Linked DNA regions of Homo sapiens: all the other regions are linked to region 1. Evidence: fine-mapped expression QTL. A gene starts in region 1. Each other region holds a variant in brackets. All regions are shown on one strand. Distances are between the middles of the regions.

Region 1 (10,357 bases):
GTCACTAGATTGAATCATCAGAGAAACAAGAGGTTTCTCTCTTAGCCAAATGGTCACTGTAAATACTGACTAGACATAGAGTTCCTGAAAAGCAGGAAACTCAACTGCTAAACCAGATTAGGTAGATTTCTATTAACAAACTAATAGAAATACAGACGTGTCTTTATGAAGACTATTATAGGGAAATCACAATCTGTATGAACTACTGTGCCTATTGTGTTCATAATTTATGGGGGAATTTACAAACTAGTGTGTTCAAAGGTGAGTCACTATTCTGAAAGATCTGGAAACTAAAGAATTGTTGAAGGATCTAAGGCTATTTAGTCTGCAGAAGATATAAAGAGCATTTTACAGCTGTCTATTTGAAGGGCTGGCATGTGGAATAAGAGTAAACACATTTTGGATTGATCATTGTAGGCCCAATGACAAATTATAGGAATGCAAATTTCAATTCACTTATAAACACCATGGCTGTTTAACAACCTGTCATGTTGCAGTAAAAACTATGGTGCTCCTTGTCTCTGGAAAGAGCTATGTCAATTGGCTGATCACCCTTCAGAGATGTGGTAAGACTGATTCATTCTGGCAGTACCTAGAAGACTGATCTAGATGATCTCTAAGATGTTCCTGAAAGCCTTTTCCTCCTGAATGTGTCTTGTTACCCATGATTATCTTTAAGTAATAAAGTTCAGTGTAGTGGAAAGTGTGTGCATTACAGTGGGGACAGAGCTCTATTTGGAACTTACTGTGTGATTTTGGGCAGGATACTTACCCTTTCTGAGCTTCAGTGTCCTCATTATCTCTCGAGACTGTTCTAAGAATTCATTAGATGACATATAATTCAAAACACCATTTGGGATTTAATGAATGGTTTTGTTTCATTTCCTACAAGATGACTTGTGATCAAACATCTGGGACCATTTACGATTTTTAAAGTAGAGTGTTGAAATGAGCTAATTTTCTTAGGCTTCCAATGTAGGTTTTCATTTTTTAAAAACAATAAACTTGATTAAGATTTGATTAGATGCTTTGTGACACAGTCTCTTTAAAAAATGACAAGGATGGTGAAAGTAGAAATGAATGGAATCAGAAGCCAGATGGCCAACATCATCTCTGAAACTTGAAACCGCAAGATCATCACTTGAAGTCTTTCCTTCCAAGAGAGCTAACAAACTCAAACTATACTATTCAACATCATAAAAGTATTTTAGCTTCCTGGAAGGTACTCCAAATTTCAGTAAGAAAAGCTCAGTGACAAGCACTTACTTTGAATTTTTAAAGGAAACTGTAATCTCACTGAATGAATCAATTTTTTTTTTTTTTACTGTTTTTCCCCAAGATGGAGGTCTCACTCTGTCACTCAAGCTGGAGTACAGTGGTGTGATCTTGGCTCACTGCAACCTCTGCCTCCCGGGTTCAAGCGATTCTCCTGCCTCAGCTTCCTGAATAGCTGGGACTACAGGTGCGTGCCACCATGTCCAGCTAATTTTTGTATTTTTAGTAGAGACGGGGTTTCATCATGTTGGCCAGGCTGGTCTCAACCTCCTGACCTCAAGTGACCCGCTCGCCTCGGTCTCCCAAAGTGCTGGGATTACAGGTGTGAGCCACCGCCCCAGCCACAATATGTGTTTTCTAGCTGTTCTCTTTTACACCTCAAAGAAGAAGTGGAAGTAAACAAACATCCCATTAATTCACAGAAAACCATTATTTACAAATAAGTTTCTTCAAATTTATATTTTATTTGTTAACAAAGAGAGCTACCCAACAGTCAGAAATCACTGAATTGCTAAACTCACTTATTGTGTACTGAATAGTTAATATCGCTAAAGCAGAAATTATACTTATTTTTTAATTTTTAATTTCCATAGTTTTTTGGGGAACAGGTGGTATTTAGTTACATAAGTTCTTTGGCGATTTTTAAGATTTTGGTGCACCCATCACCCGAGCAGTATATACTGAACCCAATTTGTAGTCTTTTATCCCTTACGCCCTTCTCACCCTTTCCCTGAAAGTCCCCAAAGTCCATTGTATCATTCTTATGCCTTTGCATCCTCATAGCTTAGGGACATATGAGAACATATGATGTTTAGTTTTCCATTCCTCAGTTGAAGTAGAAGTATTATATTTATTATTAATGATCATGACTCTTTTATTATCTATTACCATATTATATTACCATGGTACTCTTGAGAGTTCTCATTACGGGCTTTTTTTTTTTGAGACTGAGTCTCACTCTGTCGACCAGGCTGGAGTGCAGTGGCACAATCTCAGCTCACTGCAACCTCTGCTGCCAGAGTTCAAGCAATTCTCCTGCCTTAGCCTCCCTAGTGGCTGGGATTACAGGCATGCACCACCACACCTAGCTAATTTTTTGTATTTTTAGTAGAGATGGGGTTTCACCATGTTGGCCAGGCTGGTCTTGAATTCCTGACCTCAGGTGATCCACCTGCCTCAGCCTCCCAAAGTGTTGGGATTACAGGTGTGAGCCATCGCACCCAGCTGGGGCTATCTTTAGTAGCAGATGGTAACTGAGCTGGGCAATTGTTCTTTGACATTTCCAGTTCTTATCTGTTAACATGGACAGTGATTTAAATAGGCAGCTGCATGGACGGCCTCTCCCTAACTGCTGCTATCTTGTATCTCCTCATTGGTAATTATTTTTCCTAGCCCAAATTCCACGTCAAACACTATCAATATTCTGGGGACCACCCTTTCATACACTGCTCTGTACACATACCTGTTTATACATATTTTAACAAAAGTGGAATATTTACATACTGTTGTTATCATAGCCAAGCTCAACAGCATCAAAAGCATTTTTAGGTACTTAATTCAAGTGGCTGTAAAATTTAAAAAAAATCATTTTTTCTGATACTATATCATCTTTGTACCCGTATATTTCAATTTCTTGAATGTTCATTACAATTTTATTTTTACTTTTTATTCTTTCTTGAGACAGAGTCTCACTCTATCACCCAGGCTGGAGTGCATGGTATGGTCTCAGCTCACTGCAACCTCTACCTTCTGGGTTCAAGCAATCCTCCCACCTCAGCCTTCAGAGTAGCTGGGAACACAGGCGTGCACCACCACGCCCGGCTTATTTTTGAATTTTTTTGTAGAGACGGGGTTTCTCCGTGTTGCCCAGTCTGGTCTTAAAGTCCTGAGCTCAAGCAATCTGCCTGCCTCGGCCTCCTGAAGTGCTGGGATTAGAGGCAAGCCACTGCGCCCAGCCTTTATTACAATTTTAAATGTTTTTCTCTGTGTTAGCGAACCTTTGATGGACTGTTTTAAAGAGTGTTAAAGAGTGTTTAAATCACTGTGAAATGCACATTCTGTCTTAATATTTATAATTATTAGGGTACCTTCATTAATAGTGTACATTGCATAGTGCCAAACGAGATCACCACATCACTTCTAAAGGATTCCTGGAAGTCTGAGTCACAAGCATGAGACAACAGCTGCAGGACTGGGTGGTGAAGGTTGTGAAAACTTCCTGGCTTAAACAGGAATTTGACCCAAAACAAGAAGTCTTAGGGAAGATAGCTTAGGGCTTGTCTGGTGGCACCACAATGCCATCAAATGCCCAGCCTCTTTACAGTTTTCTGCTCTGCCATCCTTGGAATGCAGGCCATTGTTCTCCTGTTTGTTGTTTCATGACTGAACTATGAGTGCTGTAGCTCTTCACGTTCCTCCTGGAAGACAGGTGTAGGGCAAAGATGAGCTCTGATTCGCAGAGCCCTTCCATCTATATGCTTTCTTAGAAGCCTCAGCAATAAGTTCAACATTCAACTCATTGGCTTGAAGTGTGTCAAATGGCTGCCCCTTGCTTCAAAGGAGTCTGAGAAAATAACTTTAGCTAGAATTAAAGTTCCATTAGAGTGCCTGGGTAGACAAAGAAGAGTCAGCTACAGAAGGCCAGTATCATAGCAAGTTGTTGCTCCATGACTGGAAACAAAGAAGACTTCACTCTTTACTTCAGATGCGCAGTTGATAGAGTACAGCTAAGATATGGTACGTGTTCTACCATGAAGAGCAAGAGCAAGGTGAGGGAGGGTACGGTGTAAGAGATCCTGCTGCATTAGCTGTTGAGAGGAAGAATTTCCTCCTGGTCACTATGTTACTGGGGGTCCTTGCTCCCCAAGTTCCCAAGATGGTGGCAGGTCGCTTCCAAGATGGTGACGGGCCACTTCCGAGATGGTGGCAAGTCTTGTGTTCTCTGACCTGGGGTTCTTGGCCTCATGGATTCCAAGGAATGGAATCTTGGGCCAAGCGGCGAGTGTTATAGCTCTATTAGAAGCTGTGGGTCATGGAAGAGAATCGTGGAACCCAGTGACTAGTGTTTAGCTAGATTAGGACGAACCTGGGCACTTAGCCCTGCAGGAACAAGGGCAAGCCTTTAGCCCGATCAGGAGCAGCAATGGGCGCCTCGCTGGATCCAGAGGGATGGAAGTCAGCTGTGGGTCTGTGACAGCGGCAGACAGCAGTGGTGGACGGTGAGCGAAAGCTCAGCTTGAGCTGTGACACACACGTACCAGAAAAGTGTGCAATTGCAAGATTTAATAGAGTGAAAACAGAGCTTCCATACAAAGGGAGGGGACCCAAAGAGGGTAGCCACCGCTGGCTTGAATGCCTGGGTTTATATCCTGATCATTGTCCCTCCTGTTGTGCTCTCAGGCGATAGATGATTGGCTACTTCTTTACCTCCTGTTTTTCCCTAATTAGCATTTTAGTGAGCTCTCTTTACTACCTGATTGGTCGGGTGTGAGCTAAATTGCAAGCCCCGTGTTTAAAGGTGGACGTGGTCAATTTCCCAGCTAGGCTTAGGGATTCTTAGCCAGCCTAGGAAATCCAACTAGTCCTGTCTCTCAGTACCCCCTCTCAACAGGAAAACCCAAGTGCTATTGGGGAGGTTTGACCACCGCTCTAACTGCTTCCTGCTGAATTGGGGCACAGTAGGGGTTGTGCAGTTGAGATTTCCTCCGTAGGGGTGCCTTGTCTCTCAACTAATTCAGTGGTGGCTACCTCGAAGCCCTTCTGAAGCTAAGAGGGAAAGAGACCAGCTCGCAAAGTCCCCTATGTTATCTACTCCTAAGTGGAAGCTGGGAGCTGTGAAAATGCACATCTAACAACCCTTAACTTACTATACCGACTTCTAAACCACAGTAGAAAATGAAGAAAAGTTCGGCTATGGGCAATAGACTCAACCTTTTGTTCTATGTCTAACCTATAAAATAGAAAAATAATACTGTCATCCCTCATCTCCCACCATACTGAACACGCATTAGGTGCTCAATGAATACTTGTCCATTTTAGTGAAGATTAAGAGGAATGAGACGGAAACTGACACTTGAGAGGCTGGCACACGCCAGAACTGCACCACACTTTGCACTCATAGCTCATTTACTCATCAGCTTGTGGTCAGGTAGGCATTACCGTCCCCATTAGAGAAGTCAACGGAGGCTCAGCAAGGACGGCCAGGGTCCCCCAGAAAGTAGAGGAGGACTTCAGGTTTAACCAAAAGCCTGTACTCTTTACACATGTACCCCATGCCTTCTCCACCAAAGCTCCTGGCACCGTGCTTTGCAGACAGACGACGCTCAACACATTTTGAGCAGAAGCGTGGTTCAGCACCAGGAAGGACACCAACTTTTGCAGAGACGACTCTTGGGATGGAGAAAGACTTCCCAAATCTTCAGGGTGCGGTCAAGACAGGGTAGGCTAGCGCCAGGGGAGCTAGTGGCTAGGCCCCAGGGCAGCTGGGGCCGAGGCCGAGCAAACGGCCAGGGGAGAGGCTCCCAGGAGCCCGATCTGCCGCTGGGCGACGCGAAGCCTGGCGGCTAGAGTCCCGGGCAGCCCGAGCACGGCGGGAAGGCGGCAGCAACAGGATCGGCAGGGATGGCGGGGACGGGGGAGGTCCATGTGCAGGGGCGTGCCGCCGGTGACGCACTTCCGCCCTGCCTGTTCCGGCTTAAAGGGGCCCCAGACAATCCTCGCAATAACAACAAAACCGGCGCGCCAGCGGTGGCGCAACGGCTCTCGTCCCCGCCCTCCTGCTACCTGTAGTCGCCTGGGCCGCCCCCGGCCCAGCCCTGCCTTGCCGCCACCCTGCGCTGTCCAGACTGAGGGGTCAGGCGGAGAGCCGGGCCGCGCCTTCGGTCAGCTTCTCTCCCTTTCACCCGCGCCTCCTCGCGAGACCCGGGGCTGGGCCGTGCCGGTCGCCGCGCAGCAGGAAGGGAGCGGCTGCCACGGAAAACGCCTGGCCGGACGGTGTGGCTGGCGGCCCTGCCTGGGCGCGGAGGGCGGCGGTGGCGGGCCCCGCGGCCTTCTCTCAGGTACCCCAGTGCCCGCTGACCGCCCTGAGCGGCCCAGCTGCTTCCCCGATCCGCACCGCGGGGCCGTGGCGTAGGGGCCTTGTTGCGTTCCAGCTTGGGGGTCGCGGTGGGGCGGGGCAGTGACCCCGGGCCGGCCGTTGTGCCCTCATCCCTCCCACCCTTCCTTCGTATAGCTTCCTTTCTCCTCACGACGGCCTCCACAGTCCGGAGCCCGGCGGAGCCCGGACCTGGCGGGGAGAGCTGCCTCCACGGCCGGGCACCCAGACCCCACCGTCGCAGTCGCCACCACCTCAGTCCATCCTTGGTACCGGCAATGGGCTTCGTATCCTCCAGTGCACTTGTAACTGACTTGGACACGGAATACTAAGAACTCACTTCTGTCCTCATCCCAGTCGCGCCGGCGGTGACCATCTCGGCTCTTTTGGGCTTAACTGCCGCTCCTCTGGACTCTGTCTGACTTTGGGGGCACCATGGACCAAAGTGGGATGGAGATTCCTGTGACCCTCATCATTAAAGCACCGAATCAGAAATACAGTGACCAGACTATTAGCTGCTTCTTGAACTGGACCGTGGGGAAACTAAAAACGCATCTATCTAACGTTTACCCTAGCAAACCAGTAAGTGTGTAAAAGCTGGGGGCAGCTGCTCTGACCAGCAGCTTTTCGTGCCGTGTACCCTCCTTTTTCCTGCTTCTCCCCTCCAGTCTTGAATCAAATAGGTCTCTTTTGGTAGACCGCGAGGTATTTTGAGTTCTGAGGTTGTGTCTCCTGAGTGTTCGAACCATCATTAATATTTTCCTGATGAGGTTCAGTTAATTAGTAAGAGGAAGCAGAAATATCAAGGGACTTAAGAATTGGCAGGCAAAGACCGGGCGCGGTGGCTCACACCTGTAATCCCAGCACTTTGGGAGGCCAAGGCGGGCGGATCACGAGGTCAGGAGTTCGAGACCAGCCTTACCAACATGGTGAAACCCTATGTCTACTGAAAATACAAAAATTAGCTGGGCGTGGTGGCGCATGCTTGTAATCCCAGCTACTCAGGAGGCTGAGGCAGGAGAATCGCTTGAACCCGGGAGGCGGAGGTTGCAGTGAGCCAAGATCGCACCACTGCCCTCCAGCCTGAGTGGCACAGTGAGACTCTGTCTCAAAGAATTGGCAGGCATGGAAAAGGGACTACTTTCTTTGGACTTAAAGTCATCAACCTAATATGCGAGTGAGAGATATATCCTTTCTTAAAAAAAAAAAAGATAAAGCACTACAACCCGTATCAGAGCTTTTATTGCTTATTACACTAAAATTCCATTTTACTTTCAACACTTGGCCCAGAAACTTAAACAGAAATTGAAGATTTTTTTTTCTTAGAAATAAGTATGTGTCCCCTATAAAAATTATACTTTCAAGGTTACTATATATGTTTCAAGGACCAAAGAATTATAAGTTGTAGATTCGTTTTCACCACAACCCCTTTCAACATTTTTCTCCTGTAGAGGATACATGGACATTAGTTTAAAAGAGAACTGCCCTCCACCCCACCACCATTTGGTGCATCCCTCTCATATGGCTTTTCCATTCTGTGTTCCATTCTGAATCATAACTGGATATTGCAGAGATAATAAATAAAATATAGACAGTACAGCTCCATCTGTCCCCAAAGTCAGATTTGAAAGGCCGTGGTTGGTAATCAAGGAGTCTTGGAATAGTTTAGAAAAGAAGTATACCGTCATGTAGAGTACTGTATATGAAAGTGAGGCTTTCGCATTCTCCACTGTATACATTTTTTATTCTTGAATAAGTAGTGTTTAATTACTAAAACTTTTGTTTAATAAAGAGGGTCGGATTTTAGGGTGGGAAATAACTTTTGGCATCAGGTACATTTAAGCATGGATCTGTTGGAAGGCAACTATGCTTTCTACACTTAACACTTGTTTTATGCACCTAAGTTAAGGAAGACACTTGATCTATATTACGATATTAATGAATTATGAGCATTTCAGTGTTGTAGTATTAAGTTTAGTTAGGCTTTTAGACTTGCAGAAGAACCACAGAAATAGGACGGTTATTGCAAAAACAGGAGGTTTAGAAAAACAACTCTTAATCGGCATTAGCTGTGTTTATCAGTACTTTGTGATACAAATATTTTTAGTAGGAGGGAAAAAAAACCCTGAGGAATTTAAGTACTTAAACTAGTTAGAGCCCCTGTTTATTCACATCTTTTGTTTGAAAGTTAAGATTTACACAGGGAGTAAGAATCTGTTTGAAAATACCTTGATTACAAAAGATTTCCTGTTGCATATGATTAGTTTCACACATTTTTGAAGTGGAAAATAGGTTTTTAGGATAGTCAATTGAAAGTCATAGACTTCCATAATACTGTTCATAGCAAATATATGCTCTGGTATGTACGTAGGCGAGATCTTTACATTGTACTATTAAACCAAAAGGGACCTAGTCTGCAGTTTATAGACTTTTTTCTAAAGCTTTTTTAAAAAAAAGTACCTGAGACGGGAGTGGGAAGCCTGTCTGCCTTATCTACCCATGAAGAGGCCTGCTTTTGGCAGGAGGTCTGCCTGTGCAGCACTGATCACTAGTGGAGGATGTCAGTGCCGCTGTGCATTAGTTAGCTGTCTGAGGATGAGATCTGTTACAGAACTCCTTCCCAAACTGCCTGCCTCCTGTAGCCACACTGGAGACACTTTTGGAGGCTAAACCAAATACTATGCAGCCTATTAATGATTAACATGGCAAACCTTTTTTTCTCCTTTGACAAGTTTTCTTTAAGTGAATTGTAATGTCTGACTTTCATTTCTAGGTTGAGTGGGTGGAGCTCTGGAGCGGTGGGGGTATGTGTGTTTATCGTCATAGAATTTCACTGAAAACTTTGTATAGTTACTAGATTTAGTAAGTTTACATTCTTATCACGTGAGAATTGATTTGAAGCATCACAGTTGTTGAGCAGCAGTTTAATGGTATCGCAAAGCCATAGGTAGTCCTCAGCATAGGAGTTGGAGTCCTAAAAGTTTACTTTGTAAGGTCATTATTTAGAATTCAGCACAGTTTGCTATTAAGTAATATTATAAAGGAAGTTTAGGTTTTTCTGACCGCCTGCAATGACTAAACATTGATTCTGTGTTTTAGTTTTCAAGTGCTGTTATGTTTAACAGAGATAATTTCTTGTGCATCTTCCTTGCACATATGCCTACTTTCATTATCAGTGTGTGGACTTAGCAGAGTAGGGCTCCAGTGCTTTGTAGGAACAGGAGTGCCCCAGTAAGTAAAAAGTTGATGGCTCTCATCAACATTGCTCTAATTGGATCTGATGGGTCAGGAGTAGGTGGAGGGACTTTGTTCCTGTGGGCAGTGGCTTCTAGGAAAATAAATTGGTGCTGCTAGAGGGGAAAGAATGGAAATTTGAGATTGTCCTTTTAGGATCCTACAAAGATAGGTCATATGTCTATATGCTGTTAATGGAATTCTGGCTGAACTCTATGAAGTTGTAAAATCTTGGGATCCTAGCTTCATGGTCAGATATTGATTTGACTAATCACAGTCTCCATATGGGTATATTAAATTCACTTCTCCCTCCCCTAGCAAACTTAGAACAAATGTACCCCTCCCCCTCAAAGCACATTTTTTTGGGTCTTCATTTATTTATATAACTAGGATTTTATTGGCCTAGCATTTGAATATTTATGCTAAGTGTGAAGATGATGGTAAGAGTCCTTTGCTTTTGTGAAGCTCAGATCCAGTGACATGTAAGTAAATAAGCGTAATAGTATGTGACTAGTATTATACAGGAGGGATGTTCTGTGTGTTGCATAGGAACACAGGAAGGGAATGATCATCTCTGGAGTAGGGGTTAGGGGAATGTGTAGCTGTTTCAAGAAAAGATTCACGGGGACATTTAAGTTTTCTTAAAGAGTTGATTACAGTTTTAAGCAGACAAGAATCAGACTCTGATAGCTTCCTTTTTTATACCGTTCTTTTTTTTTTTTGAGACGGAGTTTCGCTTTTGTTTCCCAGGCTGGA
Region 2 (10,357 bases), 20 kb before region 1:
CCCATCCAGCAAGAATATACCCTTCCAGGTTTTTATAGTTTGGGAGTAGAGAATGACATTTTTTAATTAGTTCAATCAATATTTATTGAGCATATACTATGTTACAGGCAATGTGGATACAGATAGGCATTGGAGAAAATGTCAAAGTTCCTGCCTCCTTGAGTCTGCAGTCAGGAAGGCAATAAATATCCCTTATTTGGGCAATTTTGTACTCTTCCAATATGTGACCAAATATGGGCACATCTTCCAATACACAGACTGACCCCTGTCCCCTTTATGTAAATAAAGAAAGAAATCTTTGATGACCAGGAAATAATCTGAAAGGCAATTGTTCATGTTCTCATTTGTAAAAAGACTTTTAAGGGGTTGGGTGTGGTGGCACATGCCTGTGATGCTAGCACTTTGGGAGGCTGAGGCAGGAGGATTAGAAGCCCAGGTGTTCAAAACCAGCCTGGGCAACACAGTGAGACCCTGTCTCTACCAACCAAAAAAAAAAAAAAAAACAAAAATAAAAACATAAAATATCTTATTTAAAAAATAAGTCTTAAATATTATTTCACTTTAACTCAACCCTCATGCAGTCAAAGCAAAACAAAACAGAAAATTTGCTAACCTTTAAACCCAGGACAGGATCTTTTACAAGGGCAGCCCTTGCAACCTCCTGGGAGAAAGTTCATTCTCTGGGTTTCAGCTATAGCAGCCTCTCTCCCTTGCTTCTTACTTAGTTCTAAGTTCCTGGATCAGTGTGGCATGCTGGACCCATTGTCCTCGCGGTGTGGAATCAGAAGCAAGCTGTAAAAGCGTGTTCCTTCTGGTTGTTCTGGTTGCTTTGGAGGCTTTCCATCTTCATCACCTTCTGAACTGGCCTGAAGCTTTACAATGGCTCCTTGGTGAGGGGTTGCCTATTAATCACCCCATCTCTGCTCTTACTCACTGGCAGAGCACTGATTATGTTCAGGCATAACAACCCCCACCCCCATTCTCCTCCATCTAAGGATAATGGCAATCTCTCCCTCCTGGCCAAGTGATCCACTTAAACAGGTGTTTGTGACTTGTTCCACAGTTAAGTAAGTGGGTCAAGAGAGTGGCAGAAAGGCCTGCAGGTTTTTCCTTGCCCTTAAAATGAGACTTATGAAAAGAGATACTTTTTGTATCTGCATACTTTTTGCATTTGCATTTTGCATGGCATGATAGCAGCCACCTTGCAACTACCTTTAAGCCAGCTGGAGGACGAAACTGATAGGCTGAGGATGGCAGGGTAGAAAGTGGGAAAGAATTTGGGCCCTTGATTATCAATCAAGCTGCTGAATCAACTGACCCTAGGACTACCCTACTCAAGATGTCTCATTATATAATACACTGTATTTTCCTTTGCTTAAATCAGTTGAGTCAGTATCTTCCAGTATGCGTGACTGGATGCCTCCTGATACACCTGCCTATGTCCACTAATACGGGCACCAAAGAATCTCAGATGGTGGTCATGGGTAGGTTTCTGTTTGGCTATTCTGCAATTTCAGGAGAAGGAAAATGACAGGATAAGAAATTAATGCTGTTAATTGTAATCAATTGTTAATTAAATTTTTATTTTGAGATAACTGTAGATTCACATGCAGTTGTAAGAAATAAGGCAGAGATATCCCGTATACCCTTCAAACATTTTCCCCCAATGGTAACATCTTGCAAAACTATAGTACAATATCACAATGTTGATTTCTACCCCTCTACCTCACTTCAGAGCATATCCATGTATATACATTTTATATTTTAGGCTTCATAAATTCCTAGTTTAAAAACAGTTTACTTGGATTGAACTTTGTACTTTTCCAAGGCATTTTCTAGTCCACTATTTCTCTTAAGGCTTAAAACATCTCTGACTAAGTGAACAAACAGATGAACAAATGAAACAAACATCTATACAATCAGAAGTTAAGGGAGGTTTGAAATAGGCACTGCCACAGAGTAACTGTTAGAGAAGGAGTTCCATGGTACAAACTTTGCACTCTCCATCTACGAAAGGTGGCAGAGTCCTTGAAGTGTTTTTCCTCTCTCCAGCCAGTCCCCACCACTACTGATAATTAAATCCTTCTTGTCAAAGGACAGGACTGGTTCTGGAACAGGTGATTTCAACATCGTGGTGAGTAGTATTATGGAAGCTGGCAAGCACTGTATAAGATGGATCCTTTTGTGCTCATCACCTGTCACGCAAAAAGGTTTGTTATTTTGTGATGATTTCCATGAAATCTCATGGGCTCTATTGGGGGAAAGTTACAAAGCAAGAATTAACAAATAAAGATAAGAGATGGGCCAAAGTTATCTATTGGACACACCATCGGTGGGCATTCCTTGTCCCCTTGCTGCTCTCCTTCTTATAGGGCAAGAGTGAGAACAACCTAGTGGGTGGGAGGGTAATCAGACTTATTGAGTAACATCAGTGTGGGGTTAGACACCAGCTCTCTGAGTTGCCTGGGAAAGTCAACTTTCAGCACCTGAAGGCACTGGGGTCTGTGGAAGGGAGAAACTGGTCTCATGAGCAGTTTGGACGAACCCCTCCTGTGGGGATAAGGTTGGGGGCCTCAGGTGCCAATTGGCTTGTTATCCAGACAATGCAGGTGAGCCACCTAGGTCAGTTGTTGCCAATCCTGATTGTGGCAGGGTACATTTTATTCATCTTCAGATCCCCAGCTCTTAGCACACAGCCTGGCATATGATAGGTACATGAACAATGTCTGATAATGTAATGATTGAATGTGCTTTTGTGCCAATTAAAAACAAGTAATTTGGGTTTTGCTCATGGAAGGAGAGGAGGGCTAATAATAGACATTGTTGCCTACATTTCTTGAATCCCTGAAAGACGGTATACACATTCTGCCCTTACTTTGGTAAAACCTCTCTGAAGAGTCCACAACTCTATGAGGAGGCTTCCTGGTTCAAGCAATATTTTTATTGAATTTTTACTATTTCTTTGCACCACTGGCCAATAAAGCCAGTGTCTAGGATTTGTTATACTGGCACTGAGACACTCAGTAAAGGAAGGCTCTGCTGGTGACAGCAGCTCTGGAATTTTCCACAACCACTCTAACAATCTTTTTGAATCTTCAGTACTTTTACTGAATTAGATACACAGTACAATGGGACACTAGCCACTGTTTGTAAATTTTTCATAAAAACAATTTGGAAAATGACACCCCTTAAACAATTAAATTAAATTAATTAATTTATTTATTTATTTTTGAGATGGAGTTTTGCTCCTGTTGCCCAGGCTGGAGTGCAATGGTGCGATATTGGCTCACTGCAACCTCTACCTCCCGGGTTCAAGCGATTCTCCTGCCTCAGCCTTCCAAGTAGTTGGGATTACAGTCATGCGCCATCATGCCTGGCTAATTTTTTTTGTGTGTGTGTTTAGTAGAGACGGGGTTTCACCATGTTGGCCAAGCTGGTCTCGAACTCCTGACCTCAGGTAATCCGCCCACCTTGGCCTCACAGAGTGCTGGGATTACAGGCATGAGCCACCGCGCCCAGCCAACAGTTTTCTTTAGGGCAGTGTTTCTTATCTTATCACTGCTGAAAAGTCCTTTTAAGACTATTTCTCCACAGACTCCTGTTCTGAAATATTTTGTTTATAAATACATATTTTTGTTAAATAATAATCTTCCCAAGAGGAAATCAAGTAGTCAAGAAATTTTTTTAAACTAAAAGTATCCTTGAGGCTGTATTTTAAGTAAACAAACAATTATCTTTAAGTTTCCTAAAAACTTAAAGTTTCAGGAAAGCTTCAGTTTCAGTAAAAACTGAAAATAACTAGAAGAATTCTCATCCTCTTTATACCCTCGCTTCCCTCCCCACCCTCGCCCCCAGACACTGGTTATTACTTTCCTCAGCTGCTGGGATTCTGGGTATTCTAACTTTGAAACTAGAGTTCCAGAAACACCAGGCAGATAGAATAAAATTAACAAAAGCCTGTGGATTCTCCTAGGTTTTTTGCTATCCATTTACCCTCCTTACTGTTAATGGGTCTTTTACTGTGGCAGTTAGCCCTGCCTCAAAGTCTCCCAAACTGGGGACGATTAGCCCCAGCTTATTGCTAAGATAACATCAAAAGAGGCAATAAGCAAGTTGGCATAGGCAACACCTCTCACCTTAAGGAACTGTCTCCTGAGATGTAGAATAAATCACTTGTCCTCTTTAAATGAATCTCTTCACCATGGTTTTGCTTGATTCCCCCATCCTGAAGTTGCTGCTTTAAGATGGGTGGGAAAATCTCCAGCAAAAGCATAACAAAACAGCAAGTAACAGCAATTTTTTTTTTAACAGAAAAAGGATTATTTTTATTACTTTCATACATTGCCACAGCACTGTTTGGGAAAGATTAGAATCAATAGAAGTTTGGAAATCTGACCTTGGCTGGTGGAAGAATAGAAAGAATCTGGTTCTTCTTAATTTCCCATTCAGGTTCTCAGTGTTCCAGGAAGCAGTTTGCTCAAGTTTCTTTTCTCCATTTAGCTCTCCTGAATGCCCGACTTCAGTGCCTGGGCATTGCTGCCAAGGATCCCGCTGGTGCATTCAGCTGCCATTCAAGGCAACAGCCCTCCACACTGCCTCGCACTTGGAAGTTTGTCTTACAGCATAAAACAGGTGGAAGGACATTCTGCCTTTAGAGTTCTGCTGGCATGTCTTATCACTTCTGTTGTCCAGTGCCAAGAATGACAAAAATCTTTTGTGTATGTTTGGGGGTGGGAAAGACCAGATATAACTGGGAACAGCAGTTAACTTGTTGTTCAGACAAGATTCCCAGGGCAGCTGTTATAACTCAGGCAGCAATAACTCTAACACTTGGCTCTGCTGCTAAGATGGATTGATAGAAACTTTGGACAAATCATCAACAAAAATTATGTTCTCATGAGACTGTTGAATATACTATGGATCAACTTAAAGATAATCAAATATTCGCTAGACTCACAACAAGGAAATACAATAAGCATATTAATCAACTGGGGTTGTGTTTATACTTTCATTTCTAAACATCTGCTTTCAATGAAGTCATTAGTATCTGCTGGCAAAAATTTGAATTGACACAGGACTTGCAATCTGTAGCTACAATTGAGACAGGATTACCTTTTTATGTGCTGACACTCACAGTCTTCTTTAAACTAACAATTTAGTCCACTTCATGATGGAATTCTAAATTCTAATCTGTGAACTTGCCGACTATTTGTCCTTTGCCAAAGACTTTACCCCGTGCTTAATTTTTAGTCTTGACACATATGTGTACACACACATAAACAATCTTTTTGTATTTTTTATACAAATAAAAAGATTATGTTAGTATTCAAATGGTAGTTATTTACACTAAATTAAGTTTACACTTCAGTAGAAGATAAAAATGTGACTAA[C/T]TGAAATAAATAATTCCTGGAAAGAGAATTCTCAACATAAAGTTATATGAATCTCAACACTGTCCATTAAATCTCAAGATTTTCTAAATCTTATTAATGTGCATCAGTTTAAAAAAATAGTTCCAGCTGGGAATGGTGGCTCACGCCTGTAATTCCAACACTTTGGGAGGCTGAGGCGGGCGGATCACCTGAGGTCAGGAGATCAAGACCATCTGGCCAACATGGTAAAACCCCGTCTCTACTAAAAATACAAAAATTAGCAGGGCGTGGCGGCACACACCTGTAATCCCAGCTGCTCGGGAGGCTGAGGCAGTAGAATTGCCTGAACCCAGGAGGCGGAGGCTGCAGTGAGCCAAGATCGCACCACTGTACTCCAGCCTGGGTGACAGATAGAGCAAGACTCCGTCTAAAGAAAAAAAAAAAATAGTTCCGTGGTTTTGCCTTCTTCCTTTCCATTTTGTTAAACATATCCAGACCAAAATTACAATTGCCCCCATTGTAGAATGAGTTGAATGTGGGCATTATTGATACCGTTAATGATTCTGTATCACCAGCAAAGCATAGGATTAAAATTGACCTTGGCTTAAGTTGACTTACATTTTAATTTGGCCATTAAATTGATGCTGGAAAGTTGGGACACACCACACGGTTAACAGCCATCTGGCCTGCCTGTCTCCTTCTATCCTGACAACTACCTTGGCTTACCTAGTGTGTTTTATCTCTTCTCTCTCATCATTGCCTCCACCAGGATTCCTGAGTCAAAGCCCAACATGGCCCTCTGCTGTTGTACTGGCCAATCTGGTCTGTCCTGCTCTGCAGCTGCCAGTCTTCTCTGTCACTCCTGGTACCCCAACAGGCCCAGCAGCCTCTGCCAGTTCTGCTGTTCACTTCCTAACCAATGCCTCAACAACTCCTGTGGTGTCTTCTTCTGCCATCACATTTCACTTCCATTGAGGCCCCAAATCTCTGACACACCTGCTTTCTGCCTCTCTTGGCAGCTCTCAGCTCACTGCTGGCACTTCCATATACCCACATAAAGCCAAACCATAAGGTAAACTCATGGCCCTACCACACTGACTTTGGTTATTTCTCTAACCCCTTGGACATGGCACTGATATTTGATCTTGCTGGGACTCTTCCTTAGAGAATTTTCCCCCTTGCTGCCTTGGGGTGGGGAGCACCCTCCTCATTCCTGCTCTGGGAACGGACAGTGATGGGGCTGCCTCCTGCCTCCTGTTGCCTTCTCTTACCACCTCTGAGTCAGGCCAGCCCAGCAGGTTCCCAGCCTGGCTCAGATTCACTAGAATGCTTTTGTTACCACCTGTTTATCTGTCCTCCACAATTGCAGCACTTTTTTTTGACAGGTTGACAGTGTTTCCTTTGCTGGGCTTTAGGTGAAAAATGTCTACAAATCAGAGTAGATGTGATTAGTGTTAAGAGGGGAAAATAAAACTTACTGTGGGGCAAGAGGTGTGGGAAAGGTCAGATGAGAGAATCTAAACGGAGATATTAGTAGGAGTAAGTAGGAATGAATAGAAGTGAAATGAAAGACTTAGGGGAGATGGGAATATGTAAGAATGAGATTGTGAATATTAAAAGAGATTATCCTTGACCATGAAATCCAACCTACTCAGAACCTTGACATTTGACTGGTTACATGCCCTACACACTTAACATACTTTAACAACCCATTTTATTTAATAAATGTCCTAGAAAAATTAATGAGAATAAAATTAAGGAAGGAAGTTTTCTAATTCCTTAAATATAATTAGTGAAGTCCGTGGAGGTAAGGCTGATACGTAGATCAGAAAAAAAAAAAAACCCTATAGCTTTAACATGAATTTTAAACATAATTTTATCATATCCCAAAGACATGATACAATTGGTGTCTGTGAGTGCAAACATCTTGAGAAACAGTGTGCTAAAATGTTACATGCTAGGATGGCTTTTCACAAAAGTAGATTGTTTCTTTTTGAAATAAGACAATATAGGACAACTCCCCCAGCAATAAATTAGGATTATTCCCTCTATGACAAAGAAGGGGAAAAGGGTTACTCAAAGACAAATCATTATAAATAATCCATTATTCATATAAATTTATATTTTTAGAAAGGGAATATTGGTTAAAAAAAGATATTAAATGCCTGGGCAATCACCAAAATTTATTTTATAGCTCTAGCACTTGTGTTGTCTATATCCCTGATCACACTTTTAAATTGGCTTCAACGTAAATGATGGTTTAAAAAGAATTTTAGGCCATTTCTTTTGAAATTGCGGACCAGGGTTGTTAACAGCGGGAGGATGAGTGAGGTGGGTTGGGTGTGGCATCCTTTGTGTTACTATAAAGCTCTCAATGTTATAAGGAACATTATATTTTTTATTACACTTAACTACTTTCCAGACCACTAATTATTTGTATCTGTGATCAGGAATTCAAAAAACCTCTAAAATTCGATTGTTATTGTTGTTTTCCTGATAAAGATTGAGGAGGTTCCCATTCCAGCAGGAGTAGCTTAAAAAAAATAAAAGCTAAAAAATAAAAAGATTGAGGAGGATTCTGCAGCTTGCAGCTTTAGTAAAGGGCCCTATCCTTATAACAGAAGGACCCAGGAATAATTTTAAAAACTGCCAAATAATCTGCAGGTGATTCTAACACAGTATGCCTACATCCGTAGTCCTTATCATTCACCTACATCGAGAAGTCTCTACAATGTGCTCCTGAATCTCCAATGCACAGATCATGGAAGTGGATCCTATTTCACCACAAAAGCAATATCATAATCAGGAGAGAGGCCTATCAGCAAGGACTCAGAAGTAAATAAAGTATAGATGTGAACAAAATGTGCAATGTAGGCAAAATTACATGGCTATATAATAAGTTAGTTAAATATACTCTGTGTCCTGAGAAATGGGTACTAATACACTATGTACTTTCTTCACCAACATATCATAATGAAAATTTATTTCATACAGAAAATGAAAGCATGTGAGCTAGAATAAATTTTTAGTCTTTATATTTTTTATTTTATGATGTCACAGATCATTGAAAATTAGCACCAAGGACATCTGGTCCAACAGATTTATTTTATTTTATTTTATTTATTTTATTTTATTTTATTATTTTATTATTTATTTTATTTTATTTTATATTTTATTTTATTTTATTTATTGAGACAGAGCCTCACTCTGTTGCCCAGGCTGGAGTGCGGTGGCATGATCCTGGCTCACTGCAACTTCTGCTTCCCACGTTCAAGCGATTCTCCTGCCTCAGCCTCCTGAGTAGCTGGGATTACAGGCGCGTGCCACCACACCCAGCTAATTTTTGTATTTTTGGTTGAGATGGGGTTTCACCATGTTGGCCAGGCTGGTCTTGATCTCCTGACCTCAGGTGATCCGCACCCCCCTCGGCCTCCCAAAGTGCTGGTATTACAGACTTTAGCCACTGAGCCTGGCCAACTGATTAATGTTATAGAGAAAATTGAGAGCCCAAAGAAGTTAAATAAACTGTGACAGCAGAGTCAGGACTAGACTACAGGACCATTAAATCCTAGCACCAAAGCTCTCTTTCTCTCACCCTTATCTCAGCCTAGCTGCTTAGTAATGCATTTACTGGTCTTCCTAACATATAGAAGAACTTTTGGGTCATTACTTGAATAGCTTAGATTATTTTTATTTTGCTTTTTGTTTTTTGTATTTTAGGTTCAGGGATACATGTGCAAGTTTGTTATATAGGTAGACTGTGTGTCACAGGGGTTTTTTGTACAAATAATTTTGTCACTTGGGTAATAAACATATTACCTGATTGGTATTCTTTTGTGATTCCCTCCCTCCTCCCCACTTCCCCCTCAAGTAGGCCCCAGTGTCTGTTGTTCCCCTTCTAGTATCCATGTGTTCTTGTTGTTTAGCTCCCACTTATAAGTGGGAACATTGTGTATTTGGCATTTTGTTCTGTGTTAGTTTACTTAAGATAATGGCCTCCAGCTCCATCCACGTCCCTGCAAAAGATATGATCTCATTCTTTTTTATGGCTGCATAGGTTTCCATAGTATATATGTACCATATTTTATTTATCCAGTCAACCACTGATGGGCATTTAGGTTGATTCCATGTCTTTGCTATTGTGAGTAGTGCTGCGATGAACATAAACATACATATGTCTTTATCTTTCAAAACTATATAATAAATTCTGAAAATATGCCTTTCTTCTTAATCTGTTTCTTCATGCTAAACAGATAAGATTAAAATCATAGCTGCATTTCAAGAAATTGTCTGCAATCCTTCATTTTCTCCAGTAGATGTAAATTTTTATGTGGCCAGACTGTGCAGTGAACAAGCAAAAATAGGGAAAACTGAGCTTCAGGTCTAAATTAAAGCGAACGAAGACTGATGGTAAATGTAGCATTACTATATTAAAAAAAATAAATGTAGTATTTAATCTTAAAAATAAAATGTTAGGTAAAAATAGCAAATTGCAGAAGGCTATGTAGGGTTTTGTGTGGATCTGTCTTCACTTGGTAGAAGATAGCTGAGATCCACTCTCTCCCTGATCACCTATGAGATTCCTTAATCCTTTCCCCTTCTGCAGAGAACTCTGTGAATTAAGTACATGATATGAAATTAATGTCAAATCTGGGATCCATAATCTTATATTACTTCTTCCCCCTCATTTATTTGAATATTTAAAACAATGTATTCTTTAACTCATAACTATATCTTTTCCTGATAATGTGAACTTGATATTTAAATTCTACTTTCCGTCTTGAAGTTCTGTCACCTACACCAAGTTCTGTGTTTGGCTACTCTATTTGTAGTTTGTAGAATCAAAAATATGTTGTCTATAATTTTGTTGCTGTTTGAATTCGAAGTTTGTTCTTCTGATTCCACCATTCATTAGTTTCCTTAAGCAGATAAGTAAATCAGTTATATAGTCAGTTTATTATATCACAGTGAATACTAGGGGACGTATG
Region 3 (10,357 bases), 30 kb after region 1:
AGGTGTTATAGATAAAAATAGTTTTTGACTGAAAAAAAGAGTAAAAAAAATCACCTTGCTAAAATTAAGGCAAATGTGATTATGATGAAGTTATTTGAGTTTATTTTATAGTTGCTAAGCCTCAAGTGATGGAAATATGTAAACTGTAAAAAGTTTAAGGTGCTAGATGTTTTCATGCTGAAATTATAGATTGTGCTGTTACAACTTTCACAACATTGTTTGCTTTAAGACTGCTTCGTATGCAAAATAATTTTTTAACCCAGCAATTGCAGAGTATTTAGATCATTTTCCAAGTATGGAGAAAATATTGAATTCAAAAGGATCACAAATAAAATGACAAATTTACCTTCAAATGATAACAATTTATCAGTAATTAAATGGCTAGGCTCGAAAGGGACCTAAGTTTTAGGTATTTCAGTTTAGCTACTGACTTTTTGAACTGTACATTTTGTAGTACTACCCTTTAAATGTAATCTTCTTTAATTTTAGCAAGATGAGTATCATATGGTTCATCTAGTATGTACTTCTCGGACTCCTCCCAGTTCTCCAAAATCCAGCACCAATAGAGAAAGTCATGAAGCATTGGCATCCAGCAGCAATTCTGTGAGTTGTTTTGGGAGGAGTAAACATTGAACTTTTCTTTTTTTTTCGTCGTCGTCTTATTTTTTGCCTCTAAAAACTAAATGAAAAACAGAACAATTGGAGCTTGTGAATTTTGAGATTGTGTTTTGAACTAAAGTTAGGCATTTTGTAAAGTTTACCATTTTGAAAGATCTAATACGCAGTGTTATCCCTTGAAGTCTATTCACCTTGAGTTATAATTTGCTGTATGGCAGGTCAGTAATAGATTTAATCTTCAAAGGTTTAATTACTGGAATACTCAGAAAACGGAATTATGTTACGGTTATATAATATAAACTCTTAGGCCAATGACGTTTCAGAAATATGCCAGGTATTTAAAATAGTATATTTTATTCAAGGTGGATTAAATTGTTTAAAATTTAAGTACCCTAAATCTTCTTGAAGTAGATGACTTGGTCAAGGATTTTGTTTTTTAAAAATGACTGGATTTGGGTGTACATTCCACCTGCTTGGGGAGGAAATACTTAATGTATTAATCTCTTTCAGACTTGGGTATTCATTCCTCCATCCTTATTTTTCCATCTGCCTAAAATTGTTTTGGAAATGTTTTGTAATAGTTGACCTTCTCAATTTAGACATTTTCTACAAATTTCAAAAACATTGTCCCCAATCCTTTTATGTTATTTTTGATTTCCCATAAAAGCTTTCTATGACACCTTTGCAGGTGAGAGGATTGGATGAGTGGAAGCTTGCTTTCAACTTCTTGAGCAGTCAGGGAACTTTTCTACTGCTAAGTATGCTTTCCTTGTCAAGACTCCAGCCAAAGCTTGAAAGAGAGCACAAGTGACAGGGGTGGGAGCTAGTTGAAAACTCTCTCAATAGATACTAGTTAACTGCTTCTTTAAGAAACTAGCTTCTCCAGTTGCTGTATTTAATTTGTATTCTCTTAATGGTAACTATTTCCTAGTACCAGCCATGGGAATTTAGCTTACATTAAACTAAATAAAATATGCCTTGTCAAAACACCCAAGGGTCTTTGTATGTTTCCTGCCTTGGCATGGAAAGGCACAGACATTGGCATTGGCACAGAGTTTTTTTTTGTAGTCGTCGGACACAGTTGCATTGCTTCAATTTTTGTTGGGAAAGAACCCTCTGACTTTGACTTGTCCAGTGGGTTGCTCAGCCATGATTTTGTGTCATTAGTGTGTATATTTGTTTTTTTCAGTGTTATGAAAGCCTGAAAAGTATCAAAGGAATGTTAAGTTGAATTCACCTTAATTTTTCATGGTTCAGAAATTTCAAGGGACTTGAAAATATTTTAAAGATCTAATCATAAAATAATTACCTAATAAGGTCAGAAATCATTAGTTCTAGAGAAATTAGGTTGTGCTGCCAAATGACTAGGCTTTTCTTCTAATAATTGTATTAATGAACACCGTATTATGATGGCCCATTTAATGAGAAATCTTGCTGAAAAAGAAACCTTTCCCAGTTTATGTTCCTAAGAATCCGGACTCCTTAGTAAGATATTTGATATCTATTGTGTGTGAAGTAACATTTTAAAAGTTTTTGTTAGTCTTGCAAAAGACTGGTGTGGACTGTTTTGCAAAAGACAGTTTTGGACCTTTCACATTGCAGGACTTAGCATGGGAGTCATGCAAAAAGACATCCTGTCAATAGGAAGGCAGTACGGGTAAAATACAATTTAACAAAATTGTTAAAGGAAGGATGTTAAAATAATACTGTACCTAGCTTTTTAAAGTGGAAGAACTATAATTTATGTAAAATGTAATTGTGTTTTAAATGTACATGAAACACTTGACAAACTATTTTCAAACAAATTGGGATGGTCTTCAGGGAGTTATATTGTTTATGGTTACTGAATCCATGAGCACGAGAATAAAAAGATTTGAGCATGAGAATAAAAAAATACTGATTAACATCTTGATTCTCGTAGTTCATTTTGTAAAAAAGCAATATTTGTTGGTGATTTCTATAAACTAATAGAATTCTAGAACTGAAAGGAATCTTGAAAATTTAGTCCAATCTCATTTTCTGTAGGAAAGTGGAAACTCTGAGAGGTTAAGTGAACCTTTAAGGTTATAACTCTTGTTAATGTCAGAGATAACACTAGATTTTAGATCTTTTGATTTCTAGGATTTCTAGCCTGTTTCTCATTACTTTAAATCAATATGTTAACAATAGCATGTTGTACAGTACTTGGCACATAGTAACTGTTTAAATGACTCAGTAATTAGTACCATTTATTGAACACTTTCAATAAATGTATGTGTTAGGCATCATGAAAGGAGCTTTGCATGCATTAATTTAATCATGTGAAAAGAGCTTTTTATGCATTAACTTAATCCTCAGAATTTAATATGCTGTTTTTGTATATTATTATTCTGCTCCTCGGCCATTTCTAGTTGAAAAAATGGAATATTTTAGTTTAATTAAGCAGTTTTGATAAGTTTTGACGTACTAAAATTAAAATATCTACTTATACTGGACACACGATGTAAAACAGTAAATTTCTGAAATGTTATTTTGCAGAGGGATTTCATGAATACGTTTTTAGTAATGTGCCTGTAATTTTATGATTGTAAAGAACTAAATCTCCTTTTAAAAATTACATTTTTATTTGTAGAGTTCAGATCATTCAGGATCAACAACTCCATCATCTGGTCAAGAAACCTTGTCTTTAGCTGTGGGTTCTTCCTCAGAAGGATTGAGGCAGCGTACCCTTCCACAAGCACAAACTGACCAAGCACAGAGTCACCAGTTTCCATATGTAATGCAAGGGTAAGTGAAATTGTGGTAGCTATGGAATGTGATTGGGGCCCCCTAAAAATGAATTGCTTTTGAGTTTCACTATAGCCTCTTTGCAGTAATTAAAGTACATTTTAAATTTATTCATATATTTGATTTTGTATTTTGAGAACTAGAGGGTTAAGAAGAGCACTGCTTTTCAAACCTGGCTGCACATGAGAATCATGTAGGGCAGTGCTTTCAATCTTGAATGTTTGTCCTAATCACCGGGAGACCTTGTTGAGCTGCAGGTTTGTATTCAATAGGTATGATGGGGCCTGAGAATCTGCATTTCTGACAAGCTCCCAGATGATGCTAATGCTTCTGATGTTTGGACTACACTTTGAATAGCAAGGATCTACGTAACTAATTTTTTTTTACTCAGTCTCACTATAGATCTACTCAATTTAGTGTTTAGGGGAATGTGGTTGAGTGAAGGTATACTTGAAAGAGTACAGAGCCCAGCAATCTGTTTTTAAAAGTTTTTAAACGTTCCACAAGTGTTTCTAATCAACTTGGTAACAACTGTGCTAGAGTAAAACCATGATGTATTACAGGGATATGCTAATCTTGCTGCATGTTGTCCAGAATCTTTGTTGTATTGAGAGTTTTATAAAGCAGTTTTCTTAAGAAGCTTGCCATAGTCACCCTATATTTAGCAATTACAGCAGGCCCCTTGGGTTAGGCACTTCCAGAGGAAATGCAGCCACAGGTAAAGCAGCTTAGAGAGTAGGATCTTGGAGAACATGGTTTGGACCAGGGTTGTGTGTGAAAGCAGACTGTTTTACTGGGGTATTATTGTTTGTTATTTTTGAGGTAAAGGAAGCTTGAGTAACAGATAGTGATAATTTCTGTGTTGCGTATCAAGCCATGGGGCTGCAGTGTGTGGCACTGGTCTGGATCCATGATGATGGAGCTAGAAATGAGAATATGGCTAGGACCTCAGAATTGTAATGTAGGTGGTGTAACCAAGGAGTAGCTATTGACTGCTGTGCTCAACAGGACGGCATAAACACTCAGGTACTTTTTACTTAGAACTTTAAACTTAATTCAGTTATTAATACAGAAAAACAAAGCTGAATATATAGCAAATAGAAGAGAACTAATTTGTCTCAGATTTCTTAAATGTGAAGCCTTTTCTTTCAAAATAAATGTTTAGATGAGGCTGGTTGTAGACTTTCATAAAGTACCTGTGAAACTATTTTTGTTTTCAGAAAGTGATTACTATTAATATAAACCAAGATTTACTTGTAAAAAGCAGTGTTCTCAGGGTTTATATTATGGAACAGTAGCTTCAAATACTTTGTCTTATGACAGTAATTCACTTCCTTTCTTTTTCACAGAGTAAGTTCCTCTCAGTTTATACAGAGTGATTTTACTTATTTTATTTGGTGGTAGTGGTGGAAGGTGGGAGTATTATAAATAAGCCTGGAAAAATATATAGTGCCACATTAATAGTGGTTATCTCTGGATAAAATTTATAACTCTTTCTCTTACTTACAGTGAATATATTTTGTAATAAACAAATCAAGCTTATAAGATTACAGGTCTTCAGAATAAGACCATAGATACATTGGTAAAAGATTAATAATTTCTCTAAACTAGGCTATTGAGAAAATTAATAAACATAAAAGACAAAAGCATTCAGCTCTTCGAAGTATATTAAGCTGATTAGAAAAATCTGAAATAGGTGGCGCCAAGATGGCCGAATAGGAACAGCTCCAGTCTGCAGCTCCCAGCATGAACGATGCAGAAGATGGGCGATTTCTGCATTTCCAACTGAGGTACCAGGTTCATCTCACTGGGGCTTGCCAGACAAATAGGTGCAGCCCATGGAGCAGGGCGGGGCATCGCCTCACCTGGGAAGCGCAAGGGGTCGGGGAATTCCCTTTACTACAAAAGGGAAGCCGTGAGAGACTGCACCTGGAAAATCGGGATACTCCCACCCTAATACTGCACTTTTCCAATGGCCTTAGCAAACGGCTCACCAGGAGATTATATCCCGCGCCTGGCTCAGAGGGTCCCATGCCCAAGGAGCCCTGCTCATTGCTAGCACAGCAGTCTGAGATCAAACTGCAAGGCGACAGC[A/G]AGGCTGAGGGAGGGGCATCTGCCATTGCCGAGGCTCGAGTACATAAACAAAGTGGCCAGGAAGCTCGAACTGGGTGGAGCCCACCTCAGCTCAAGGAGGCCTCCCTGCCTCTGTAGACTCCACCTCTAGGGGCAGGGCATAGCTGAACAGAAGGCAGCAGAAACTTCTGCAGACTTAAATGTCCCTGTGTGACAGCTTTGAAGAGAGTAGTGGTTCTCCCAGCACTGAGTTTGAGATCTGAGAACAGACAGACTGCCTCCTCAAGTGGGTCCCTGACCCCCGAGTAGCCTAACTGGGAGGCATCTCCCAGTAGGGGGGCGACTGGCACTTCATAAGGCTGGGTGCCCCTCTGAGATGAAGCTTCCAGAGGAAGGATTAGGCAGCAACATGAGCTCCTTGCCAGCAGCGGAACAAAGCTGTATGGAGAATGACTTTGACGAGTCGAGAGAAGGCGGCTTCAGACAATCGGTAATAACAAACTTCTCCCAGCTAAAGGAGGATGTTTGAACCCATCACAAAGAAGCTTAAAAACCTTGAAAAAAGAGTAGACAAATGGCTAACGAGAATAAACAGCATAGATAAGTCCATAAATGACCTGATGGAGCTGAAAACCATGGCACAAGAACTACGTGATGCATGCACAAGCTTCAGTAGCTGATTTGATTAAATGGAAGAAAGGGTATCAGTGATTGAAGATCAAATGAATGAAATGAAGTGAGAAGAGAAGTTTAGAGAAAAAAGAGTAAAAAGAAATGAACAAAGCCTCCAAGAAATATGGGACTATGTGAGAAGACCAAATCTACATCTGATTGGTGTACCTGAAAGTGATGGGGAGAATGCAACCAAGTTGGAAAGCACTCTTCAGGATATCATCCAGGAGAACTTCCCCAACCTAGTGAGGCAGGCCAACATTCAAATTCAGGAAATACAGAGAACACCACAAAGATACTCCTCGAGAATAGCAATTCCAAGACACATAATTGTCAGATTCACCAAAGTTGAAATGAAGAAAAAAATGTTAAGGGCAGCCAGAGAGAAAGGTCTCATTACCCACAAAGGGAAACCCATCAGACTAATAGCTGATCTCTCGGCAGAAACTCTACAAGCCAGAAGAGAGTGGGGGCCAATATTCAATATTCTTAAAAGAATTTTCAACCCAGAATTTCATATTCAGCCAAACTCAGCTTCATAAGTGACGGAGAAATAAAATCCTTTACAGACAAACAAATGCTGAGAGATTTTGTCACAACCAGGCCTGCCTTACAAGAGCTCCTGAAGGAAGCACTAAAACACGGAAAGGAACAACCGGTACCAGCCCTGCAAAAACATGCCAAATTGTAAAGACCATCTATACTAGGGAGAAACTGCATCAACTAATGAGCAAAATAACCAGCTAACATCATAATGACAGGCTCAAATTCACACATAATAATATTAACCTTAAATGTAAATGGGCTAAATGCTCCAATTAAAAGACACAGACTGGCAAATTGGATAGAGTCAAGACCCATCTGCTGTATTCAGGAAACCCATCTCACGTGCAGAGACACACATAGGCTCAAAATAAAGGGATGGAGGAAGATCTACCAAGCAAATGGAAAACAAAAAAAAGGCAGGGATTGCAGTCCTAGTCTCTGATAAAACAGACTTTAAACCAACAGATCAAAAGAGACAAAAGGCCATTACATAATGGTAAAGGGATCAATTCAACAAGAGGAGCTAACTATCTTAAATATATATGCACCCAATACAGGAGGACCCAGATTCATAAAGCAAGTCCTTAAAGACCTACAAAGAGACTTAGACTCCCACGCAATAATAATGGGAGACTTTAACACCCCACTGTCAACATTAGACAGATCAACGAGACAGAAAGTTAATAAGGATATCCAGGAATTGAACTCAGCTCTGCACCAAGCAGACCTAATAGACACCTGCAGAACTCTCCACTCCAAAACAACAGAATATACATTCTTGTCAGCACCACATCACACTTACTCCAAAATTGACCACATAGTTGGAAGTAAAGCACTCCTCAGCAAATAAAAGAACAGTAAATTATAACAAATTTACTCAGTAAAAGAACAGAAATTATAACAAACTGTCTCTCAGACCACAGTGCAATCAAACTAAAGCTCAGAATTAAGAAACTCAGTCAAAACCGCTCAACTACATGGAAACTGAACAACCTGCTCCTGAATGACTACTGGGTACATAACGAAATGAAGGCAGAAATAAAGATGTTCTTTGAAATCAATGAGAACAAAGACACAACATACCAGAATCTCTGGGACACATTTAATACAGTGTGTAGAGGGAAATTTATAGCACTAAATGCCCACAAGAGAAAGCAGGAGAGATCTAAAATTGACACCCTAACATCACAATTAAAAGAACTAGAGAAGGAAGACCAAACACATTCAAAAGCTGGCAGAAGGCAAGAAATAACTAAGATCAGAGCAGAACTGAAGGAGATAGACACAAAAAACCCTTCAAAAATATCAATGAAGCCAGGAGCTGGTTTTTTGAAAAGATCAACAAAATTGATAGACCACTAGCAAGACTAATAAAGAACAAAAGCGAGAAGAATCAAATAGACACAATAAAAAATGATAAAGGGGATATCACCACTGATCCCACAGAAATATGGCCATCAGAGAGTACTATAAACACCTCTACGCAAATAAACTAGAAAATCTAGAAGAAATGGATAAATTCCTCGACACATACACCCTCCCAAGACTAAACCAGGAAGAAGTTGAATCCCTGAATAGACCAATAACGGGTTCTGAAATTGAGGCAATAATTAATAGCCTACCAACCAAAAAAAGTCCAAGACCAGACGGATTCACAGCTGAATTCTACCAGAGGTACAAAGAGGGGCTGGTTCCATTCCTTCTGAAACTATTCCAATCAATAGAAAAAGAGGGGATCCTCCCTAATTCATTTTATGAGGCCAGTATCATCCTGATACCAAAGCCTGGCAGAGACACAACAAAAAAAGAGAATTTTAGACCAATATCCCCGATGAACATCGATGTAAAAATCCTCAATAAAATACTGGCAAGCTGAATCCAGCAGCACATCAAAAAGCTTATCCACCACGATCAAGTCAGTTTCATCCCTGGGATGCAAGGCTGGTTTAACATATGCAAATCCATAAACATAATCCATCCTATAAACAGAACTAAAGACAGAAACCACATGATTATCTCAATAGATGCAGAAAAGGCCTTTACAAAATTCAACAGCTCTTCATGCTAAAAACTCTCAATAAATTAGGTATTGATGGGACGTATCTCAAAATAGTAAAAGCTGTTTATGACACACCCACAGCCAATATCATACTGAATGGGCAAAAACTGGAAGCATTCCCTTTGAAAACTGGCACAAGACAGGGATGCCGTCTCTCACCACTCCTTTTCAACGTAGTGTTGGAAGTTCTGGCCAGGGCAATCAGGCAAGAGAAAGCAATAAAGGGTATTCAATTAGGAAATGAGGAAGTCAAATTGTCCCTGTTTGCAGATGACATGATTGTATATTTAGAAAACCCTATCATCTCAGCCCAAAATCTCCTTAAGCTGATAAGCAACTTCAGCAAAGTCTCAGGATACAAAATCAATGTGCAAAATTCACAAGCATTCCTATACACCAATAACAGACAGACAGAGAGCCAAATCATGAGTGAACTCCCATTCACAATTGCTTCAAAGAGAATAAAATACCTAGGAATCCAAATTACAAGGGATGTGAACGACCTCTTCAAGGAGAACTACAAACCACTGCTCAGCGAAATAAAAGAGGACACAAACAAATGGAAGAACATTCCATGCTCATGGATAGGAAGAATCAATATCGTGAAAATGGCCATACTGCCCAAGGTAATTCATAGATTCAATGCCATCCCCATCAAGCTACCAATGACTTTCTTCACAGAATTGGAAAAAACTAAAGTTCATATGGAACCAAAAAAGAGCCCGCATTGCCAAGTCAGTCCTAAGCCAAAAGAACAAAGTTGGAGGCATCACGCTACCTGACCTCAAACTATACTACAAGGCTACAGTAACCAAAACAGCATGGTACTGGTACCAAAACAGAGATATAGACTAGTGGAACAGAATAGAGCCCTTGGAAATAATACCACACATCTACAGCCATCTGATCTTTCACAAACCTGACGAAAACAAGAAATGGGGAAAGGATTCCCTATTTTATAAATGGTGCTGGGGAAACTGGCTAACCATATCTAGAAAGCTGAAACTAGATCCCTTCCTTACACCTTGTACAAAAATTAATTCAAGATGGATTAAAGACTTAAATGTTAGACCTAAAACCATAAAAACCCAAGAAGAAAACCTAGGCAATACCATTCAGGACATAGGCATGGGCAAGGACTTCATGTCTAAAACACCAAAAGCAATGGCATCAAAAGCCAAAATTGACCAATGGGATCTAATTAAACTAAAGAGCTTCTGCCCAGCAAAATAAACTACCATCAGAGTGAACAGGCAACCTACGGAATGGGAGAAAATTTTTATAATATACCCATCTGACAAAGGGCTAATATCCAGAATCTATGAAGAACTTAAACAAATTTACAAGAAAAAATCCAACAACCCCATCAACAAGTGGGCAAAGTATATGAACAGGCACTTCTCAAAAGAAGACATTTATGCAGCCAATAGACACATGAAAAAATGCTCATCATCACTGACCATCAGCGAAATGCAAATCAAAACCACAACGAGATGCCATCTCACACCAGTTAGAATGGCGATCATTAAAAAGTCAGGAAACAACAGGTGCTGGAGAGGATGTGGAGAAATAGGAATGCTTTTACACTGTTGGTGGGACTGTAAACTAGTTCAACCATTGTGG

Alleles and levels. Alleles are on the strand shown, and positions count from the first base shown. SD is a standard deviation of normalised expression in the study named. Not every link is listed here.
For the expression in monocytes of the gene that starts at base 5,927 in region 1, G is the high allele of the variant in region 3 and A is the other (large effect, 0.76 SD a copy in Quach 2016).

The links. PIP is the estimated chance that this variant, and not a neighbour inherited with it, causes the effect.
Region 2: its variant is fine-mapped to the expression of HERPUD2-AS1 in whole blood (INTERVAL, PIP above 0.99).
Region 3: its variant is fine-mapped to the expression of HERPUD2-AS1 in monocytes (Quach 2016, PIP 0.95). The same link has a PIP of 0.9 or more in monocytes after LPS, monocytes after Pam3CSK4 and monocytes after R848.

Annotation. Positions count from the first base shown.
Region 1 is chr7:35,690,776-35,701,132 of GRCh38, reverse strand. It overlaps HERPUD2-AS1 (HERPUD2 antisense RNA 1), which reads right to left and starts at 5,927. Exons shown (of 1, transcript NR_136255.1): 1 at 1,720-5,927. HERPUD2 (HERPUD family member 2) reads left to right here and starts at 5,998. Exons shown (of 9, transcript NM_022373.5): 1 at 5,998-6,332; 2 at 6,506-6,949. The coding sequence starts at 6,803. RefSeq lists a silencer at 6,120-6,529 and an enhancer at 5,972-6,859.
Region 2 is chr7:35,710,908-35,721,264 of GRCh38, reverse strand. It overlaps LINC03013 (long intergenic non-protein coding RNA 3013), which reads right to left and starts at 4,828. Exons shown (of 2, transcript NR_108083.1): 1 at 4,397-4,828; 2 at 1,553-2,195. The variant C/T (reference allele first, on the strand shown) is at 5,391.
Region 3 is chr7:35,660,461-35,670,817 of GRCh38, reverse strand. HERPUD2 (HERPUD family member 2) reads left to right here. Exons shown (of 9, transcript NM_022373.5): 4 at 490-603; 5 at 3,230-3,384. Among named protein-coding and RNA genes, the nearest start is that of HERPUD2, 29 kb to the left of the region's middle. The variant A/G (reference allele first, on the strand shown) is at 5,479.